Linked DNA regions of Homo sapiens: region 2 is linked to region 1. A link means that fine-mapping ties the variant in region 1 to the expression of a gene that starts in the linked region. Tissue or cell type: whole blood. Region 1 holds a variant in brackets; the other region holds the start of a gene. All regions are shown on one strand. Distances are from middle to middle.

Evidence for each region. PIP is the estimated chance that this variant, and not a neighbour inherited with it, causes the effect.
Region 2: SHISA2 starts here. The variant in region 1 is fine-mapped to the expression of SHISA2 in whole blood (TOPMed, PIP 0.96).

Annotation. Positions count from the first base shown.
Region 1 is chr13:26,027,151-26,029,996 of GRCh38, forward strand. No RefSeq gene overlaps it. Among named protein-coding and RNA genes, the nearest start is that of SHISA2, 23 kb to the right of the region's middle. The variant C/G (reference allele first, on the strand shown) is at 1,644.
Region 2 is chr13:26,050,835-26,053,496 of GRCh38, forward strand. It overlaps SHISA2 (shisa family member 2), which reads right to left and starts at 1,182. Exons shown (of 2, transcript NM_001007538.2): 1 at 1-1,182. The coding sequence starts at 141. It overlaps LINC00415 (long intergenic non-protein coding RNA 415), which reads right to left. Exons shown (of 2, transcript NR_146971.1): 2 at 1,442-1,838.

The DNA.
Region 1 (2,846 bases):
CCAAGGACAGCTTTGAATGCAGTCCAACACAAATTCATAAACTTTGTTAAAATATTACGAATTTTTTTTTTTACACGGAGTTTCACTCTTGTCGCCCAGGCTGGAGTGCAGTGGCACGATCTTGGCTCACTGCAACCTCTGCCTCTCGGGTTCAAGTGATTCTCCTGCCTCAGCCTCCCGAGTAGCTGGGATTACAGGCGCCCGCCACCACACCTGGCTAATTTTTTGTATTTTAGTAAAGACAGGATTTCACCATGTTGGCCAGGCTGGTCTTGAACTCCTGGCCTCAAGTAATCCAACCACCTCAGCCTCCCAAAGTGCTGGGATTACAGGCGCGAGCCACCACACCTGGCCAGTGTTACTGTATTTGATGTGTAGCCCACGACAATTCTTCCAGTGTGGCCCAGGGAAGCCAGAAGATCAGACACCCCTGGATGTATGGCAGAGCAACAGGGCATGTGACGTGGGGCTCCTCTGCCTCTGATATCTTCCACCTCATTTTGTCCCACACGTGAGTCTTTTGAGGGAACTCTCCAGTGCTGGTTGGAATGCCAAGGAGATAATGTTAACTGGGGCTATAGATGAGGCTCTGGAACTTGATTACCAGAGGGGGACAAAAATAAAACCCTTCCACCTACTAAAGCTACAAGCACCAAGCACATCCAGTCCAGCTCAAAAGCATTAAGCTTTCATTTATTAAAAGTAGGCCATGCACGTAAATAAGATGATTTAAAATTCTAAAATTCTTGAGGGTTGGTCTCAAAGCTCCATCTTCAATCTTCAGCTGTTTGTCTCTCTCTACAATGAACTGTTGTTGACTTAAGATTCCAGAGCAATGGATATTTGAAGAAAGGGTGCGCAGGTAATCGTTAAAGCAACAGCGTTGACCTGAACCTTGGATTTGAATTGTCTGCCCCAGGAGTTTCTATATCACTGTCACTAGATAGTTGTCAAAATTTAATGCTACAGGTACTCTCTCCTCTACTCTAAAAAAATGGGTTTTGATTTGAAATATTCTAAATTGCTGAGAAACCCTTCCTGATTTTCCCCCCAATTTTTGTTGTTGTTGTTGAGATGGAGTCTCACTCTGTCACCCAGGCTGGAGTGCAGTGGCGCCATCTCTGCTTACTGCAGCCTCTGCCTCTTGAGTTCAAGTGATTCTCCTGCCTCAGCCTCCTGAGTAGCTGGGACTACAGGCACCACCACTGCCCCCAGCTAATTTTTGTATATTTAGTAGAGACGGGGTTTCACCATGTTGGCCAGGCTGGTCTCTAACTTCTGACCTCGTGATCTGCCCGCCTCGGCCTCCCAAACTGCTGGGATTATAGGGATGAGCCACCGCACCCGACCTTCCCCCAACTTTTAAAACTGTGGTGTATGATTAAAAGCTCTTATGCCTGGCAGGGCGCAGTGGCTGACACCTGTAATCCCAGCACTTTGGGAGGTCAAGGCAGGCAGATCACAAGGTCAGGAGTTTGAGACCAGCCTGGCCAATATGGTGAAACCCCGTCTCTACTAAAAATACAAAAATTAGCCTGGTGTGGTGGCACATACTTGTAGTCCCAGCTACTCAGGAGGCTGAGGCAGAAGAATCGCTTGAACCCAGGAGGTGGAGGTTGCAGTGAGCTGAGATCGCGCCACTG[C/G]ACTCCAGCCTAAGCGACAGAGCAAGATTCCGTCTCAAAAAAAAAAAAAGCGGGGTGGGGGAGGCTCTTACGCCAACCTAACACATCTTGCCCTGTAGCTGGGAGGCCAGATGGTTGTTGCTTGTCGTTGTTGCTTCCCGAGTGGCCTTGAATGGAGGGTATGACTAGCTGTTAGGAGCTGAAAGAGAACAGCCCAGTAGCCACAAACAAAGCTGTTAAGCTCACTTTTTTTCCCTTCCCAGTGTCCTTAAGAGGAGCTGCCTGCAAATTACTCACAAAGATGGCTGCAGGAAAAGCCCTTGAATTTGTTTCAGTATTACATATAAATTGCATGTGGTTGCAGAGAATGAGATTGGGAGGCCCTTATTCAAGAAACTGCCTCCAAGCAATGTTTTTAATACTTTAGCTGGAAAATGTCTTCATTCAATCTCACTTCCCGATTTATATGATGAAAAACCCCCCTGTAATGCACAGCAGAGAGCTAAGGGATGCTCCACAGAAGCACCTGTCCTTGTGAGTGAGGGAAAACTATTCAGACAGACAGGATGCTTTTGCATTTGTGTGCATGAGTACACACATGCATACGTACCTAGTAGTTCTATGGGAAAAAATGAAGTAAACAACTGTACAGAAATGCAAAAGAAAAAAATTCACTTTTAACTTTGAGAATTTGGCAAAGCAGCTCCAAAAGTGCCACGGCAGGTATGTAAGGGCTTAACCCAAGTCTTGTTTTAGGAGACAAGAGATAACCCATTCTCTGGAAACTGTGTGTGCTAAAGGGAAAATGCTCTGGGCCTTTTCAGTCCCAGCTGAACAGCCAGCTGGATGTTTGTCTGAGAACCAGGGGGCTTTCTTCTAAAATTGCTGAGGCTCCTGTTCCCAAGGAGAGGCCTCAACTGGTGGGCAGAGGCAGGGGAGCAGGGGGCCTTGCAGTTAGAACATGGGAAGCCGGACTTGCTAGCGATCTGGAATCTCACCATCCGAGGGAGCTTCAGCTTTGGGGCCTCTGCCATGCTCTTACGTGCTGCTCTTGTGAATACAAGCTGACTTCCAGACACTGGAGAGGTAGTGGCCAACCAACCAAAGTCCCTTTCCTCATGGAGCTTACATTCTAGTGGGAGAGACAGACAGTAAAGGAAAATGTAATGTGATATCATGTCCTACAGTGTAGGTGGTAATGTAAGCACAGGGCTAGATTCTGTG
Region 2 (2,662 bases), 24 kb after region 1:
GACGCCCTGCGCGTCCAGCCAGCCGTGGCAGTACTCGCCGCTGGCCCTCGCCCCCGCCGCCAGCAGCGCAGCCAGCAGCAGCTGCAGGAGCGAAGCGGCGTTCCAGGATGAGGAGACGGACGAGCGGCGAGCGCCCCACATGGCACCACCCTGGGCGCGGACAGCGCGTCTCCAGAGAGCGCAGGACGGTCTCCGAGAAGTCGTGGCCCCGGCGACCCCCGGGCCTCGTCACTGACTGTCCCGCGGCGCTTTCCGCGCGGGCCACTCCCCTCTGCCGCGACGCCCAGGAGGCGACGACGCCGGGCCCTAGGTCCAGGAGCTCCTAAGCCATCCCCGTCCTCAGCCGGTGGCCCGGTCCCCTTAGGGACTGCCTTATGAGTTGCACTCGCTGATGGAAATCTCGGGATGCAGTCAGAAGGCCCCCGGGGCTGTCGTCCGGAAGCCTCTGGAGGTTTCACTGGCAACCGGACCCTCCCTGAGCATCCCCGAAGGGATGCTCACTCGAGCCGAATGACCGCTGGGCGCGCCGCCGCGGACCTGGAGCCAGGGCTCTGCGCAGGGTTTAAGCCTCAGGGTCCCGCGCGCGAATCAGGGCCCGTCTCCCCTCCTTTATTCCCTCCTCGGGCGGGTAGAAGGGGCGAAGGCGGGCAGTGCACGCAAGGCTCTGGGCAGCAAGTGACGCAGCCGGCCGCGCTCAGCCTCCTCTGCCCCGAACTTGGTCCGCATGGCTCCGGCCGGGCCGCCCGGGCAGCCCACGGGGGTGCAGCCCCGACGCTCCACTCGGCGGGGCCGACGGCCAATCTTCCCAGCACGTCGCCGAGGGAGCGCTCCTGACCCCGGGAACGTCCAGGACGCAGGCGAGGGTCCTGCGCGCCCCCAGCCGCAGTCCCGGGAGCCTGCCCAGCTGGCGGCGGCCGCGGCTGCTGCTGGGCGCGGATCCAGGCGGGCGGCTCGCCCCGGTTCCCCTTCTCCGCCTCCCCGGCTGCAGCGCGGTCCCACAGGAGCCCGGCAGCCTCCGGCCGGCTCTCCCTCTCCCGGTCGCTGCCTCGCCCTCGGGAGGTGTGCGCACCGATGGAAGCCTCCCACGGAAGTTTCTTTCCTCCGGGCTACGGGAGAAGCCGAGCGCAGCAGCCGCCCACAGCCTCGCCTCGCCCCGCCCGGCGCCAGACCAGCTCCGACTCCGCTCGCTGCCGCGCTGAGCCGCGCTCTTATAGAGGCCGGCGGCTCCCCGGCGCGCATGCGCGCTGCGCGGCTCCCCCCCACCCCCGACCTCAGGGACGCCCGCGGGCGCCGGGCAGCCCCTCACTTTCCTACCCCGGGCAAGGAGAAAGGTGTGGCCAAGGGCGGGGTCTGCCTGCTGGAATAGGCGCGGGAGGAAACCCAACCTAAGCAATCCAGGCCTCGCTAACACAAATAACAATAATAACGGAAGAAACTCAACTTGCTTTGTGAAGATCTTTGGCATTCAACATTCGGTTCGATTCTGCAAACTTCTCAAGGGATTATGATTACTTTCCACTCTGCAGATCATAAAATCGCCACTCAGATGAACTCTCTCGGCTTCCAGCAGCTGATGTCCTGGCCACGGTTGGTCCCAGGCCCTGTGCAGGAAGAGCACCGATGTTTGTGGCAGGGTTCACACGCCTAGGGCTGTGTTTGGTGGACTGGAGGCCTCCACCACAAGGTGGAACGGAGAGAGTTCAGCAAAGATGTCACACATTCGGCCACGGTGTGGATGATCTGTGTCCCTTTTTCTTTCTATATTTGGGTGTGGTGATTTATCGGATTCCAGCAGGAAAGTGCCTCCGTCCAACATGTGGCCTTAGTGGTTTAGACAGCTGCAGTCAGGAAGAAAACAAGGTTCAGACAGACCAGAAATTCAGCTTTGATGAAGGAGAAATTAATAGCTTCTCTCTTGCAGAAGCTGGAACAACAGGTGCTGATGTTATTAAAGCAGCAGTGCTTATTTTTAAAGGAACGAATGCCCCTTCCCACACCGTCTGGGAGTCAGCAGACCTGAATTCTAGACCCAGCCCTACTAGCAGGGAATCACTGCGTTTTTCTGGTCTCAGTTTCTTCATCTATAAAGTGGAGCATAGGATGTGACGATCACTAAGGTCCCTTTCAAGTCCATGACTTCAGAACACAGGCAGTTTTATTCACAGCAAAGACACTCAGGTTCAAGCAGCCATTGGATGCTTGTGTATGCCTGGTTAATGTGAAGATTCAGACATTGTTGATTATTCTTCCACTTGCCCCAACAATGTCAAATCCAAGAAAAAAAACCCTACCCTATGTCCCTGCTCCCCAACACACACCTTATTCTTTTCACTAAACCTCTCTCCAAGCATTGCACTTTGTTTTCTTGCAGTTTTTTGGTTGTGTATCGTTTTAAGCTACACAAAATTATATACTTTAAATGCACTATTCACCAAATGTCTTAAGCTAGTAAGCTAAAAAAAATTTCAATGTCAAGAAATCATTCATTCAAGAAATACACGCCATGCACTTACAGTGTACTGTGCTCTGTGCTGGGTACTGGGACTCATCAAGAAGCCAGACAGCATGGCCATTTCCTTCAAATAGGGCCTAAAGTCTCCAGGGTAAAATACAGAAATCAGACAAAAAGACAAAGAACTGAATAAGCAAAGAGAATGCAAGT